2 separate regions of the Homo sapiens genome follow, and region 2 is linked to region 1. Evidence: fine-mapped expression QTL. Tissue or cell type: cerebellar hemisphere. Region 1 holds a variant in brackets; the other region holds the start of a gene. All regions are shown on one strand. Distances are from middle to middle.

Evidence for each region. PIP is the estimated chance that this variant, and not a neighbour inherited with it, causes the effect.
Region 2: it holds the start of VSTM2B-DT, and the variant in region 1 is fine-mapped to the expression of VSTM2B-DT in cerebellar hemisphere (GTEx, PIP 0.98).

What each region holds. Positions count from the first base shown.
Region 1 is chr19:29,400,174-29,408,273 of GRCh38, reverse strand. The region is part of intron 3 of VSTM2B-DT (VSTM2B divergent transcript); the gene reads left to right. Among named protein-coding and RNA genes, the nearest start is that of VSTM2B-DT, 120 kb to the left of the region's middle. RefSeq lists enhancers at 3,074-3,243, 2,800-3,426, 3,310-3,479. The variant T/C (reference allele first, on the strand shown) is at 4,376.
Region 2 is chr19:29,521,376-29,529,475 of GRCh38, reverse strand. It overlaps VSTM2B-DT (VSTM2B divergent transcript), which reads left to right and starts at 3,726. Exons shown (of 10, transcript NR_040029.2): 1 at 3,726-4,052. VSTM2B (V-set and transmembrane domain containing 2B) reads right to left here and starts at 3,482. Exons shown (of 5, transcript NM_001146339.2): 1 at 2,811-3,482; 2 at 2,081-2,265; 3 at 1,014-1,043. The coding sequence starts at 2,892. LOC124904683 (a long non-coding RNA gene) reads left to right here and starts at 196. Exons shown (of 2, transcript XR_007067215.1): 1 at 196-435.

The DNA of each region.
Region 1 (8,100 bases):
GAAAGATGAGGCCCAGCGGGGCAAGATGCAGGGAGTGGGCTCTTTCTGGCAGTCACAGGAGTGGGTTCTGATTCCAGGCAGGCTTGCTGTATCTTCTTGGCAGATGCCGTCTGGATCCTTAGGAGCTGCAGGGTGGATGGCAACAAGGTCTGGACGTCACTGGGCAGTGAAGCGGGGGCCTGGTTGGCCAAGCCATTGCCTGATGGGGATACCAAAGAGGGGTCTAGACAGGGAACTGCAGGTCCTCCCCATTCTGCCATCCTCTTATGGTCCAGGGGTATGAAGCCTTCCAGCCACACAATCTCGAGGACAGAACTCGAGCATGTTGGCCCTAAAAGCCCCTCTTTCCACCACCCCACTGCAAAGATTAGGTCCAACTCTCTGAAGGTTATTGAGGCGGAGAGGCAAGTGCCAAGGGCTCTGGATTTTGCATCTGGGAGACCTTAGGCTGGTACCTTCTTCTCACTGGGCCTCAGTTTCCCCCTGAGTCAGATGAGAGGGTTGGACCAGATGGTAACAGGCTTTTCATCTGTGGCTTGCTTGTGACCATCAAAAAAAGCAAAAACACGTTAAAGCCTCGCCAGTCATCATTTTCCAAGTTTCCCCTGGATTTTTCCATCGGAAGACAAAACGTGATGAGACCATATGTCAGGCTAATTGTTCCCCAAACAGAATTTAAACATTTGAATATGCTTGCAACAGGGAAGGGCAGGAAAGAAAATGGTGTTGCAGGGGGTGGAGGTAGTAGAGTCTGGCTCTGTCCCTGGGATGTGCTACAGGGGTACCCTTGCCTTCAGGGCCATGGGGCTGCCTGGGGCAGCAAGAGGTCTGTCAAACTGTATGAAAGGTCAAGGCTGGTGGGCCATGGTTATAAAGTCCACCCACCCACTCACTCTACAGGTAACAGCAGAGCACTCAGCTGAAGCCTGGCCCAGCCCTGGGTGCTGGGAACCTGAGGATCAGGGAGGGAGACAGCTGAGGTCCTTGCTGCTTTGGAGCTCCCAGGTCAGCAGGAGAGACAAGTGCCAGGATGGAAGGGGCCACACAGGGGCTGGGGGTGCCAGTTGAGGATTAGGGGAGGCCTAAGGGATCGGGGGAGCCAGGTAACAAGGAGGAAGGGGCAAGCATTTCTGGAAGAGAAGGCAGAGAGTGTGAGGGCCAGGGTGGGAGCAGTGTGGCCACTGGTCCTGTAGAAGGCTTGTCGCATCAGAACCAGAGGGGTGCTGGGGAGAGGGGCACAGGGTTGGGGGGCCGGAGGGGTGGCTGGGGGTCCCATCACCTGTGGCGGGTGGGCTGCCTTGTCTGGGCCCTGCAAGTGATGAGGAGGGGCTGACAGCCTGCAGCAGGGGGGTGACAGGACACCTCTGGGCTTCTGTCCCAGCTCTGTGCCTTCCCCTGATGTGTGGTCAGGTACACGGAGGAGGTGCACCCCAGGGAGGGCCGTGAGTGGAGTTATTCCTCACATCCTTTTTTTTTGCATTTATTATTATTTTTAGTTGACCATAATAATTCTACACATTCATTAGGTACAGTGATATTTTAATACATGTAGAAATGTGTAATAATCAAATCAGGGTAATTAGCATATCCATCACCTCAAACATTTATTATTTCTTTGGGTTGGGAACATTCAAAATTCGTTCTTGCAGCTATTTGAAAATATACAATACATTGTGTTAATGATAGTCATCTTACAGTGTTATAGAACACTAGAACTTATTCCTCCTGTCTAGATGTAGTTCTATAGCCATTAAGCCATCTCTGGCTGTCCTCCCACCCTTCCCTGCTTCTGGTCATCACTATTCTACCCTGTTCTTTTTTTTTTTTCATTAGAGACAAGGTCTTTCTTGGTCACCCAGGTTGGAGTGCAGTGGTGTGATCATGGCTCATTGCAGCCTCCAACTCCCGGGCTCCAGCGATCGTCCCGCCTTGGCCTCCCCAGTAGCTGTGACTACAGGCATGCATCCCACCACTACCAGCAAATTAAAAAAAAAAACAAAACTTTTTGTAGAGACGGGGTCCCACTATGCTGCCCAGGCTGGTCTCGAAATCCTGGGCTCAAGGGACCTCCTACCTCGACCTCGCAAAGTGCTGCGGTTACAGGTATGAGCCACAGCACCCAACTCGCTACTTCTATGCGATCGACTTTTTCAGCTCCCACATGAGTGAGATCATGAGCTATTTGTCTTTCTGTTCCTGGCTTTTTTCACTTAGCATAACATTCTCTAAACATCCTTGCTGCCGAGAATGACCATGAAGAGGTGAGCGGATAGATAAAACGTGGTATTAATATACACACACAGTGGAACACTGTTCATCCACATCCTCTTGTTGCAGGCTCAGGGAGGTGAGCGGGTGGGGAATTGATGCCGGGACCCGGGGAGGCAGCAGCGGACGTGGGCTCAGAACCCACGCCTGTGGTCTCCTGGCTCCCCGTGGCCCCCTCTTCAGAGCACTGGGCTGCGACCTGCACCCTCTGGTGTGGCGCGGCTGCCACAAATGGTTTGAATGGAGGGTGCTGAGAAGGGAGGGAGCATCCATCTCTGGTCCGGGATAGAGGAAACTGACGCAGGCCTCAGCTACACGGAGCTTCCCCAGCAAGGCAGGGCCTGGGCTTGGCAGGTGCTGCACCAGAGGAGTCTGAAGCCGAGGCAGGTGCCCGCCAAGCCTTCCAGGGACGGGGACAGGGAGGTGGGGAGCCGAGGGGTTCACTGCAGGCCCAGGAGCAAAGGCTACAGATGAATCTGGTGACTGTAAAACCTCAGGGACCAAGCGTTCGAACAGCCCCACCAGGGCAGATCGGGGACCAGGAAAGGCTGGGGACGGCTCAGGGGCCTGTCTGCCAGGCTGCGCTGCCTCTCCCACTCCCGTTAGCGCTGTCCCACCCCGCTGCGAGGCGAGCTGGAGGAGGGCTGACAGATGCATTCAAATATGGCTTGGTTCAAAGAATGAGCTTAATTAGGCATTTAAGCCCGTGGTTGTGAGTCCAGAGTTTTCCGATTTGGCGTGCGGTCTGGAATGTTGTGGAGCTCGTTTACAGAGGAGGAGCCAGAGAGTGGAAAGGGGTGAAGCAGATGGTCACATTGTTAGGCCTTACCCGCCCCTCCCAGCGCTCGAGGGAGAGGCGAGGTCCATTCCCCAGGCTGCTGGGCTCAAGTGGTGCGCGCCTCACTGTGCGGAGCTCTCAGTCCCGGGCCTGGCCCTGGACCCAGGACAGGGAGACTATCCAGACCTCCGGCACGCCCTGGGGTCTCCCAGAAGGTCAGGCTGGGAGGGCCTGCGGCACTGTACTCCAATGATCTGGGGCCACTGTCACACAGCAGGGAGCCTCTTAGTGACCTCTGTGGCACAGACAGCAGCCTCCCGGCACCGCCCCCTCCCCAGGCCGGACCTGCCTCCCAGGGACCCCCAGCCACTATCCAGGACCTGGAGAAGGCTGTCGACTTGGCAGCCCTAGAGAGGGAAGGCTGCAGCATAGTATCTTGGTCCTGGGCTCAGGGGATATCAAGAGCCATGGCTGGGACCTAGAGGGTTTCCAGGAGGTGCGAGTGTGGCCAGGGAGGAGAGTAGGCACCCCTCAGCAGAAGTGCAAGTGGCCTCCTCGCCCCTCCCTGCCCTGGACCCGCATTTTCTTCTCTGCCTGTTCTTCGGTTGCCCCTTCCTGTCTTTCCTCTCGGAGTCTCTCTTCTGCCTCCATTTCCATTACTCTTCGCCCCTATCGCTGCTTCCTTTTCTCTGCCTCTCCCAGTCTCTCTAGCTTCAGGCCAATCCAGGCCCATTTTTTTCTCCTTCCTCTACCTCCCAGCCTGGTGTCCAAGCCCTTTCCACTCAGCCCTCCTCCCCGGCATGTCCATGGGCCTCTCATCACCAGCACATTTCTGCTTCCAGCCTTTGCTCACCTAGAACGCCCTCGCACTCCTCTCTGCCTGTCCACAGCCACACGTTTCTGTGCCCCCACTTCTTGCTTCCTGGCATCCTTCTGGCAGGGCCAGCATGCCGGGCTCTGAGGAGGGGGCCTGTGCACCTGCCCAGCGGCACCTGCCACCCTGCAGCACCCGCCCAGCAGCACCTGCCTCTCCCGCTGAGTGCAGAGCAGCGTATCCAGCATCATCCTGCACAAAGACAGCTCCCTGCTGAGGAGGTGCTTGGGTGCTGTGGTTGAAATGATGACCCCCATTCAGTGGACACACAGATTCCAACAAGCCCCATGAGGGAGGAATGAAATGCTGCAGAAGCCCAGAGCTGGAGGCACTCCTGGGGAGTCACCGGGGCCCAGCCTCCTGCCACCAGCTGAAAGGGGAGCACGTGGAAGGCGGGCCTCGTTCCCTCCAGCACAGCTCACCAACTTACCCGTGCTTCTCAGAAAAGCCATGCG[T/C]CTCACCAACAATGCACTCAGCTGCTGCCACCTGGGAGGGCTGCCCCCAGGAGTGGCTCATGCAGCTCGACCCTGCCCCTGGGCCCTTCCATCTGGGGCTTGTAGCTGAACCTACCCTAGCTCTCTTCATGCGTGGGGTCTCCGAATGAATGGTGTGATGCTTTCTGAGTTTCAGCCACTCTGAGAAGGACTGCCTCCGAGGTGCCTTCAAAGTCCTCAAGGAGGGCAGTGTGGGCACCACAGAGCGCCCAGGCTGCTTTGAGTGGGAACACCACAGATGCAGCCCTGATCTAAGACCCGCTGGCTGCCTTGTGATGGGGCAGGGCGTGGGGGGCAGACAGACAGAAGTTTGTTTTATTTACATAGACACTCGAAGATGCAGAACGCTGAGTTCCTGGTGAAAGAGACCCTGCCTTTGGCAGGGCTGAGACTTGCCAGAGATGGGACTCACCACTTCTGGCTTGGGTGGGAAGAGTCTCTGGGGCCTGTGGCTTGGGCAGAGGGCAGCCCAGGGTGCCCCAGGCCCAGCCTTCCTTCTCCAGGGCACTCATGTCTTCCAGGGGCCACCTGTGCCTGCCACTGCCTGGTGCCCCACAGGGCCTGTGTTGTGAATCGGGGTGTTTTTTTTTTTTTTGAGACGGAGTCTCGCTCTGTCGCCCAGGCCGGACTGCGGACTGCAGTGGCGCAATCTCGGCTCACTGCAAGCTCCGCTTCCCGGGTTCACGCCATTCTCCTGCCTCAGCCTCCCGAGTAGCTGGGACTACAGGCGCCCGCCACCGCGCCCGGCTAATTTTTTGTATTTTTAGTAGAGACGGGGTTTCACCTTGTTAGCCAGGATGGTCTCGATCTCCTGACCTCATGATCCACCCGCCTCGGCCTCCCAAAGTGCTGGGATTACAGGCGAATCAGGGTGTTTAAATCACCACCTGCTTCTGGGGACTGTGCAACTCCACAGGAAGGCAATGTTGCCCCTTACCTGCCAGCCCTGTTATGAGTGGGAGGGGCCTCTGGCCTCCATCACAGACAGAGGGGCTGAGGCCCAGAGTGGGCACGCGTCCAGGTGCAAGCCTGGAGAGCTGGCTGTGCTGGAGGGCAGCCTCTTTTTCTGCGATTTGGCTGTGGGGTTGCTGGGAGCACAAGGCAGTTCTGAGGATGGATGGGCAGGGTTCCAGCTGCTCAATCTGTCATTGCAAATCAGTGCTCCCTCGATGTCACTGGGCTTCTGAGGGGTCTGCTGGAGGGGCCAGTGCCTAAGTGGAGGGGGAGGGGAGCACAGCCGAGGGGCTCTTGGGGGGACTCGGTGGGTCCCTCCTGACACCCAATGCTGAGGCCTCCCAGGAGTGGCGGGTGTCCTGCAGGCACAGGGCAGGGGCCACTCTGCATCTCAGCTCTGTGCTCACCCATGGCTGGGTCTTGGCCAAGTTGTTTAACTGCCTTGGCCTCCTCCTGACCTATGAGAGGCTGATCATCACATGGTAAGTGAGATCCTTCACTTAGCCGTGCCTGGCCCACAGGAAGCATTCAGCAAACAACTGCCATCCCTGTCACTGATATTCTCACTAAAGGCTCCCGCTGGGCACTGACGGAGCCATGACTGGGTCCACAGCAGCTCTCATTTGGACACAAGCTCGGCTCCAGCCCATCTCAACTAACAGCAGAAGGAGAGGAAAGAGGCTGCCTTACAGCATGATGGATGGAGGTTAGATACGTAGGGGACTTCCCGATGGGGTGGCCCTCTGAGAAAGATTCTGTCCAGCACTCTTTGAGGGCAAGAGGGGTCATGGTGGGAGGAAGGCCAAAATGACCAAGGTGTACCCCCCAACACCCAGCACTCCTTTCTACACCAGGTCCTCCTCAACGGGAGAGGTGAGATGCGCTCAGGGTCTGGGCAGCTCCCTGGAGGCTCCTTTGTCTCAGCTGGGACAGGAGGGCATTTGAGGAGGGCTGGCTCCTATTTGGCTCCAGCTGTGCCCCCACCCTGCAGAAGCTGGCCAGGCTTGCGGGTGGGGGTGAGGCTTTTGGAGATCTCTCAGCCAGGAGGAGTGGGAGGAGAGCAGGGTGGACACGCTGGCTGGTCTAGAGCAAAGTGAGCTCCAGAGAGCTGAGTCAGCCTCGGGAGCAGGCGCTCGGCCAGTGGGCACCTGTACTCTGGCCTCGCACCCCTTAGGCACTCCATCTTGGGATTCCTGATGTCATCTATTTTGTCACGCAGGATATGGGGGGTCCTGGGAGGAGAGTCTGTTAACACCAGGCCTGGCAGGAGGTTCCGGAGGCCCCTGTGAGTTCTGTGTTCTGGACACACGGTGATGCAGCTGGAGGCCGCTGCCCGGTAGGGGCGGTGGGGGCATGTCTGGCTCAGGAGCCTGGTGACCATGCAGAGCGTGGGCTGGGCGCCACCTCCTCCACTCCACTCTGCTGCCTCCCACTCTGGGCTGTCTGGAAGCTTAATGTGCCTGGGTCTTCCCCATGGGGAATCTGGAACCCAGAGAGGTTGGGTGACCCGTGAGAGGTGAGCTCCCAGCTCAGAGAGACTTGAAGCTGCTCCTGCCCCCCCGGACTCTGTGTGTGATGAACATGCATCGCCTGAGAGATGAAAGAGCAGCGCCCTGCCTCCTGTTTCTGTCTCCCGATGTGAGAAACACGTTTCTCCTCCTACTCACTGTCATCCCCAGAGACAGGGTTTGGTGCGTGGGAGGCACAGACCTGTGGACTCAGTTTGTGGTGTGGTTTTGTTACTGTTACTGTCTCCTGCTGGTGACAGGATCCCAGGCCAGCAGCACGGAATTCTGCCCATCTCCCATGCCCAGAGGCCGGGCGGACTTTCAGGCCAGGCCGTGTGGGTACCGATGCTGCTGCGGGAGGCCGTGAGAGCCTCTCAGGGGCTGTGTCTCCTGTCCTTTTTTCCCTTGTGCCCAGTGGGAGCTCCTTGAGAGCAGAGACTGTGTGACTCATTGTAACCCCACGGCCAAGCACTCAGCACACTGCAGACCCTGTCCCCACCATGCCCACATCTGCTTGGCACCCATCATTCCCATGCCCACTGTGGCCCTTTCTCCCAAGGGCCTCTTTTGGAACAAGAGTGGGCTTGGTCTGTGTGGGGCAGCCCAGGAGTTTTGGTGACTCCATGCCCCCAGGAGCCAAGGATGGACCAGAGCGGGTCCATGCATCCTCCAGCCCACCTGCCCCCAGGGGGACAGCCTAAGGCCTGCCCTGCCCACCTCCCCAGTATGCCCTCAGCAGCAGCCTGCTCATTGTCACACCTGTCCTGGCTGCTGTCCCTTTCCTCCCGCGTGGGTGTTTCCCAGGATCACCATCTACACTGCCTGCTTGGGTCCAAGTCCTTACCGTAGGGTCTGGCCTGGGGAAGTTTGCAGAATGCTGGGGGATGAGTGCGGGGCTCAAGGGACAGACATGTGAAAGGAAAATCCAATCTTAGGGCCCCAGACTCACTATGCCAAGGGAAAAGGGAAGCTTGGAAACTGAGTCCTTCTTTTCTTCTCTGAAGAGATAGCTGCAGTGATAGAAGGCCATACGTCTCCCCAGGTGGCTTTCCTCACTGATTAATCACAAGGGAATTCCTTGTGGGCCCCCAGATCTTTCAGAATCCGCATGTCCCCTCTAAACTAGCTCTCAAATGAGTTCTGTGGAATCTGACGCTGACAACGTCAATGACCAGCTCACCTTCACAGCTATGGGACAAAGACGGGCCGAGACATTCCTCCACT
Region 2 (8,100 bases), 120 kb before region 1:
CCTGCACCTTCAGGAAACCCCAGGCTGGATTCCTTGTTCCTTAACTTCCCCACGTCTTTCCCGCCCCGACGCGCTCCAACCGACAGTCCCGCCCCAGCCGGCCCTCCTCACCTCCCGGAGCACGGAGGGCCTGCCCGAATCGCTTCCTAAGGAAAGCCACCCTGTCACCGGACCCCGCCCTTTACAGCTAACACTGTGCTTTCTTAAGAAGGCAAGCAACGCTGAGGCTGCTGCCTGGCTCCCTGGCCACCTGCTACCAACCCGCCTTTCCGCGGGATCTCCAGAAGCCCCCCAGCGAAGTGCTCCTCCCCTGCGCCCCGGTGGGGACTTCGGGAAGTACTGCTCTACGGCTCTCAACAAACACCCAGGGAGCCCTCACCTCTGAACCGAGCCCACGAGGAGGCTTCGTCATCTCCAGGCCTTTCTACGCTCCAGGTGGGAAGCTTGGGCGCATCTCCTCCCAGAGTTAGCAACCCCATGACCCGGGCCCCTCGCAGCCTGGCACAACCACCCCCTACCCCGTCCCCTGCAAGCCTGCAACACCCCGCACCCAGACCCGCAATCCAGGCGGAGGATAAAGGGTTGCAGCGGAGGGCGCAGAGCAGATGCTCAGGGCGGGGCAGAGGGGGCGGGAAGCTGGCGCCACGGTCGCGGCGAGGGCGAGCAGCCGCGCGCTCCCGGTGCTAGGAGGAATGCCCGCAGAGCGGAGGCTGGCAGGCGCGAGAGGCCCTAAGCGCGCAGTCCGACCAAGGGGAGTTTTACAGGTCAGCGCCGAGCCGAATTAGGGGACTCAAGCCTTGGACCCTTGATTTACACAAAAGAGAACCCGACCCTGCAACCGGCGACAGATGGCGCCCGGACACGCCGAGCAGCCACCGATGCAAGGCTGCGATCGCTGCCCTACTTGCGCGGCCCCACATGCGCGGCCGCCGCGGCTTGCTAAGGGAGGGAGCTGCGGGACCCGAGGCGGCCAGAAGGGGTCTCCCGCGGCCCGCGCTGGGCTCCACACTTACGCTGATTTTAGTTGCATCCTTATTTGTTACCTAAAATGCAAAGAGGGAGAGAGAGACGTGAGGCTCGCGGCCTTCTGGCTAGGGGAACTCGGATCCGCCTTTAGGCAAGGGCACCCTCCTCCGGCAGGCTAGGACCGAAACCGCCCGGGGGATGGGGGTTGAGGGCACAAAGGACGTCCGGCTTTCCAAGAGTTTCCCAGGAGGAAGCGGGCTTTGGAGCTAGCATGGTGCCTGACCAACGGGTGGCTGCCCTGGTGCACACCTGCCGGCTGAACTGGGGAGACTGGATGGACACCAGGGTGGGAAGGAAAGCCCCTCTCCTTCCCTCTGGGCATCCTTAGGCCCTGCCGCGTGGCTCAAAATCCTCCCCCAGCTCACTGGGAGCCGTGAAGAACTGGAGGGAGGGCCGCTGTGTCTGGACAGCACCCAGCGGGAGGCTCAGTGGGAGTAACTCTGGGTGGGACCCTGGGAGAATGTAGGTGTGTGTAGGTGTAGGTGTGTGTGTAGGTGTGTGTGCACGCGAGCACACTAGAGTGTGTAAGAGAGTGTGGGTTTTGAGGCAGACAGGCAGCGTGGGCCTGTTTTCGGCCACAGAGAAGTGGCCCCTCTGTGCCCCTGAGGGCTGGAGGTCCTGCCGGCTTTCCGGTACTCGGTTTTCTGGTGGCCTCTGGAACGCAGCCGTGGGAGCCCTGGGGTCCTCAAAGTGGCAGAGGGCGGGGAGAGCCTGATGGGACCAAGGGGGCTTCCTTCACTACCCAGCACCCATCAGAGGGCCGCAGCCAGCGAGCACGAGCAAGCGACCAGGCTGAGGTGTGGCTCTTTAGGGGCTGGGCGTGAATGGAGTTCTGGGAGGTGGTGGGAACAGCGATGCTGTCAAAATAATTGACAGGTTTGGGGGTAACCACTGCTGACTTTGAAGATGCTTTGGGATGCGAAGGTGGAAGATGGGCTGCGCCACAGGGCGGCGCCCTGCGCGAGTGAAGCCCGCTGCTTCCCTCCCTGGGTTAGCCTTCGCCGCCCCGGGCGCGAGCCGGGCGCGCGCCGGTACCGCGTGGGCGGCGGGTTACCTTGCTCCGGGCGCCCGGCACGCTGAGCGCCAGCTCGTGCAGCAGCTCCCGGGGTGGCTCCTTGAGGTACCACCACTGAATCTCCAGCGAATACGAGGTGGCTCCGCTGGCCCGGAACGCGCAGGGCATTTCGATGTCGTCTCCCTCCCGTACTGTCACATCTTTGGGGACTTCTGTGAATGCAGCTGGGGGTGGGGAGAGAGAGAGAGGCGTGACCAGCTGTAGGTCGGGGGCCTGGGGCAACCTAAAGCGAGGCAGTCGGTCTCTGGCTGGCTGGCCTTGTGCCCCCCACCCCGCAGCTGCTCCCTGGCGCACGGCCGGAGGGGCTAGCAAAGTTCGGGGAAGCGGCTGCAGGGCCGAGGCAGGGACCGGCCATCGGCTGCCTACTGCTTCCCTCCGGATGGGGCGGGGCGGCAGGGGCGACTCGTGCTTCTCCCCCGCCCCTGGCCGCACCGCCAGAGCCTGGCTGGGGCGCGCCTACTCCCGCTCCCCGCAGGCATCCTTTCCGCAGCCGGGGCCCCGGCGGGACTGGGAACGACTCGGGCGCGGCGCTGCTGCTGCGGCGACCCTTCGCCGCTCGCCTCTCCCTACCCCTCCGGGCCCAGGCTGCACAGCGGGATTGCTGGAGACCGCGAAGCTTCCCGGTTCGTTCTCTTTCTTCTTCTTCTCGGTGGCGGCCCCAGCAAAGACCCCCCCGAGTCCACAGCGGCAGCAAAGTTCCCGCGCTCACCGTCGGCCACGAAGAGCAGCAGGGCATGCAGCAGCAGAGGCGGCAGGTATCCGAGGGCACCGAGCCGGTTCCGCTGTTCCATCTCCCGCGGGGGGCGCGGTGGCGGCGGGGGCCCGGGAGCGGAGAGGCGGCGGCCGCGTGGGCTCGGATCGGCTCCGGCTCGGGCTAGGACGCCTCCGAGCCTGCCATGGCCCCGCGCGGCGCCCCCTCCCCTGGCCGCCGGCGGCCGCCAATCAGCCCCGCTCCCTCGCCGGCTTGCCCGGTGCGGCTCCGGCGGGGGGCGCTGCGCGGGGTGTGCAGGAGACGCGGTCCCACCGGGAGGCTGCTGGCGATCGGTCAGTGCCTCTCTCTGTCCGGTCGTCCACAGGACGGTGGGGATCCGCGGTTCAGTCTCTGCCCGGCGGGCCGGGCAGGGGCTGGGCCGCGCCGGGACCCATCCCTGGCCGAGGGAGTGCGTGCCACGGAGCCGCGAGCTTCTGCCTCCCTGTCTCCTTCTGGTTCTGCTCCCGATTGCCACCTCCTTCGGCTCCCGCAGCCGCCCCCGCCGGTTCCTCCGCGGCTCTTTCCGCAGGGCGAGTGGGCGCTCAGCCGCGGCGCGCAGACCTGGCGTCCGACCCAGCGCAGCGCGGGGAGAGCGGGTCCGGCGTGGCGGACCCGGAGCCGGAGAGAGGCGGGGAGAGGGGGAGGGGAGGGGAAGGGAGGGGGCGGTCAGTGGCTGGGCGCCAAGCCGCCTCCACCGCTGCATCGCCCCCGCCCTCCCCTCTCCTGCCACAGCCCGCCCCGCCCCCGCCCCAGAGCGCTCCCCCTCTCTCCTCGGGGGTCGCTCGGAGGGACCACCGTCTTTCTGGTTGGAGTACAGCCCCGCCCCGCACCCGCTTGGGTTGGGAGTCCTCCCACCCAAACTCTCCCTGGCTTCTTCCCAGTCTGCACGGCTCGAGACGGCCGCTCATCCCTGCTCCCCGTGTGTCCCTCGGTCCTCTCTGCAGCTCCCAGCCCTCAACTCCTTACCCCAGTTTGGGCAACCAGCTGCCCCGCTGTTTGGCCCAGGCCTGGGCCATGACGGATGGGTGGGCGCCCGGGGCCGCGAGAAGGGCGGAACGCTGTGCCCAGCCGGAGACTACGCTGGGTGGCGGCGGCAGCGCCGGGAGTCTGCAGTGCGCGAGGGAGAAGTGAGCGCACAGCGCCCAGCGAGCAGGTGCCTGCGGCGCGGAGAGCGCACACGCTAGCCAGCCCGCAGCGGCCGTGAGTGACGGCAGGGGCGGCGGGGGTGGGGTGGGGTGGGGAGCGCCGGGCACGACTCAGGGCCCGGGAGGTTTCCGGGAGGGGGCGGGGTTCCTGCCCCTGGATCGCGGGTCCCTGTGTCTCCACGCGCTCTTCGCCGGTCGTGGCCCCTTCTTTGCCCGGTGCAAAGCGAGATGCCGAGGCGGCAGGAAGCCGGAACCCATCCCCCGCCTGCTCTGGCGTACTCGGCATCCCGGTACCTCCCCCAGCCTTCACCCGGAGTCTGCTCCCTCCCCAGCCATCTGAGGGAGCGCGGTCTGGTCCCCGAAGGCAAATGCGGGGTGGACATGTGGTTCGGACGCAGCGCGTAGTCATAGTCATAGGGGCGAGTCCTAAGGCTCGCCTTGGGTCTCTCCTATCTCCTTCCCCCGGGAGTCCCCAGCTAGTGCGTTTCGGCACCTCTGCCCCTACCCCGGCCCCTACGCCTCAGCTCTGACCTCAGGTTGGGGTGGGGCAGCCCGGTGGATTCACGTGCCTGCTTCCCCGGCTACCAGCCTCCCGGAGGCACCGCCAGAGGATTCCCTGGGAGCCAAGGAGAAGGAAACCCAGAGGGAAAACACTCTCCAGCAGCCACCCTGGTCCAGGCGGCCAGCGCAGCACAGCTCAGAGGGGAGGAGCTGCAGGCCCTCTCCAAGGCTGTCCTCGCCAGCGGGTGCCCGGGGCCAGCCCTTCTTGCCTCCAGTGCCTGCCTTTCAGTTTCCTCGTCTATGGCCCAGGAGTCACTCCCACCCCCTGGCTCACTGTGGCTCATCTATCAAGCCCTTGTTTTCTAAGGTCTCCTGCTGGGGGCAAAGGGAAGAAGGGGGTCCTATAGGACTTTCCTCCTTTCCCTCAAGTTCCTCTCTAGGGGCTCCACAGAGGCAGTTGCCAGCTCCTTCTGTCATGGCAGGAGCTTTTCCTAGGAAATCCCATGTGCCCTTAGAAACCACTTTGGACCCCCGAATGTAAGACCCTGCCAGGCCCCATTGCTGTCCTCAGCTTCTGAAGGGAGAGGGCAGACTTGCACCGCTCTATGCAGATTCAGGACCACAGCGGGGTTCCAGGAAAGCAGGCTCATTTGGGGACTGATTCCAAGCAGGGTTCTGAAGAAAGAGCTAGCCCACTGCGCAGTGGCCCACCTGGAGAGGTAGCAGTCTCCTTTCCTGATGCCAGATCCAAGCAGAGGCTAATGCTGGAGACCAGCGATGCCCGTGGGAGAATCCCTGTAGCTAGAGGGAATTATCTGGAAGTAATTTATCCCTGTACCGCCTTGTGGGGTTGGGTGTTTCTTGCCCACTGCATGAGTTGGTATTACTCTAAGAGCGACAGATACATGTTTTCACATGCTTTCCATGTACTAGACACTTTCTAGGCATCAGTTCTCAACATGACAAAGAGATCCTTCTCAGGGAAATCAGATCCCTCTTCCACTGCTGAAAAACCCCACAGTGGCTCCCATTTCACTTGGCATAAACACCAGTGGCCTTGCAGTGGCTGCCAAGGTCAAACCATCTGCCTTTCTGCTTCCTGCTCACCCTTTTCCTTCATCTTCTCATCTTTTCTGTCTTCTCCATAGCTCACACTCCCCTAGCCACACTGTTCTCCTTCCTACAATGCAGCACACTGGGCATGCTTCTACCCCAGGGCCCTTGCACCAGCCGCACCATCTGGTTGACATGCTTCTCCCACAGATACTTGCTTGGCTAACTCCGTTGTGCTCTGGTTTTTGTCAAGCAGTCACCTTCTCCATGAGGCCCACCTGGGCCACCATATTTAACACTGCAGTCTACACTGCCTCTCCTCCCACCACCCAGCACTCCCAGGCCCTCACTCTGCTTCCTTTATTTTTTCCATTTCGCCAGCCATCTTCCAACACATGGGACCACATCCTTATTTATTGAGTGTCTTGTTGCAGGTCTCTAAGACTGTGCCTGCCTTGTTCACTGATGTATCTCTAGCGCCTACAACAGGGTCGGGCACAGAGTAGGAGCTCAGTAAATACTTGTGGAATGAATGAATGAGCTCATTTTACCTCAATCACAACTCCAGGGGTAGACATGGTGATTTCACTCCATTTTATGGTTGAAGCTCAGAAGCTTACGGAACTTGCCCAAGGTCACATAGTTAGTAAGTGGCTGAGTGACGCATCAACCCAAAGCCTGTCTTACTCTGGGGTCCTGGATCTTAACCAAAACACTAAGCTCTTCCCTCCTCCAGGTGAGCCCCTGGTCCTGATGCCTCGAGTTGGTGTGGAGAGCAAGGCCCTACCCTTGACTGATGGGAGCAAGGAGCAGCCTGAGCTAGACTTGTAGTCTCTTTCCTGTCTGTTCAGCTTGGTCTATCTGTTTTCTGCCCTGCCTTGTAGACTGTGATGAGAGCAGCTGACCCACCTTCACTATGGTTTTTTTTTTTTTTTTTTTTGACACGGTCTTTTTCTGTTGTCCAGGCTGGAGTGCAGTGGCACGATCTTAGCTCACTGCACCTCAACGTCCTGAGCTCAAGCACCTCAGCCTCCAGAGTTATCATGCTGACACCAGGAGGATTAGCCCACCATGCCTTGCTAATATATATATATTTTTTTTGTAGAGATGGGGTGTTGCTATGTTGCCTAGGCTGGTCTTGAACCCCTGGGCTCAAGCGATCCTTCTGCCTCAGCCTTCCAAGTAGCTAGGACTACAGGCATGCACCATCACACTTGGCTAATTTTGTGCTTAAAATTTTTGTAGAGGTGAGTTCTTGCTCTGTTGCCCAGGTTGGTCTTGAACCCCTGGGCTCAAGCCATCTTCGTGTCTCAGCCTTCTAAGTAGCTGAGACTACAGGCATGCGCCACCATACCCAGCTAATTTTTAAAATGTTTTTTGTAGAGATGGGGTCTTGCTGTTGCCCAGGCTGGTCTTGAATGCCTGGGCTCAAGCGATCCTTCTGCCTCAGCCTTCCAAGTAGCTAGGACTGCAGCCATGCACCACTATACCTGGCTAATTTTGTTTAAAATTTTTTGTAGAGGTGAGGTCTTGCTGTGTTGCCCAGGTTGGTCTTGAACCCCTGGGCTCAAGCCATCTTCCTGTCTCAGCCTTCTAAGTAGCTAGGACTACAGGCATGCGCCACCATACCCAGCTAATGTTTTATTTTTAATATTTTTTGTAGAGATGGGGTCTTGCTGTGTTGTGCAGGCTGGTCTCAAACTCCTGGCCTCAAACAGTCCTCCTGCCTCTGCCTCCCAAAGCACTGGGATTATAGGAGTGAGCCACCACACTGGCTTTCTCTGTGTCTTTAACTCCCAGCTGGGCCTGCCCATAGTTAGAGCCTAGCAAATATTCGGACAGGGAACCCTGCTAGGAGCACTTTGCCTCCCTTTTGCTGTGGGTTTTCTGTGAGCAGGGCAGGGATTTTGTCTCTTCGACTTAGCCCTTTGGCTAGTTGGAGGATTAGTGAGCTAAGACCAGACTGCAGCTCCTGCCAGTCAGAGGGCACTGGGTTCCTTCCCTGCCAGTCTCTGCCAAGCCTGGCTCCCCACTCCCTGCAGGGGAGCCATTTCCTTCTCACTAAGTCCTGGTGGGATGTGGTCTCTCAGTTGGAGACTCTAAAGAAGGTGGCTGGGGAGGAGCATGCGTGTCACTTCTCCCAAAGGGACACTAAGCTCTGCGGACACAGCCATTCAGGTCTACCTACTGTGGTATCTCTTGGGCTCCTACAAAGATGACCTGTTTGCAGTGAATCGTGGTTATGTGAAGCTATGGACTTGAGAGTATTTCATGATCATTTTGTTTCTAGTCCTGATTAATCATCAATGGGAACTAACACGGTTTTCCCCTCCCTCCATCCACAGCTATAAAATGCCTGTGGGGTCGCTGTGCACAGAGACCTGGAGGCAGATCCTCTTGTAATGTGGTTGATGGGGCCATGGGTTGGCTGCCCTGCCCAGTTGGCTGTGCCCGGGGGGCTTGCTTCTGCCAGGGCCTGGCTACTGTGTGCCCAGCCTCGGGGCTCTCACTCATTACCTATCATGAGCTGTTATTATAGGGCTGTGAGC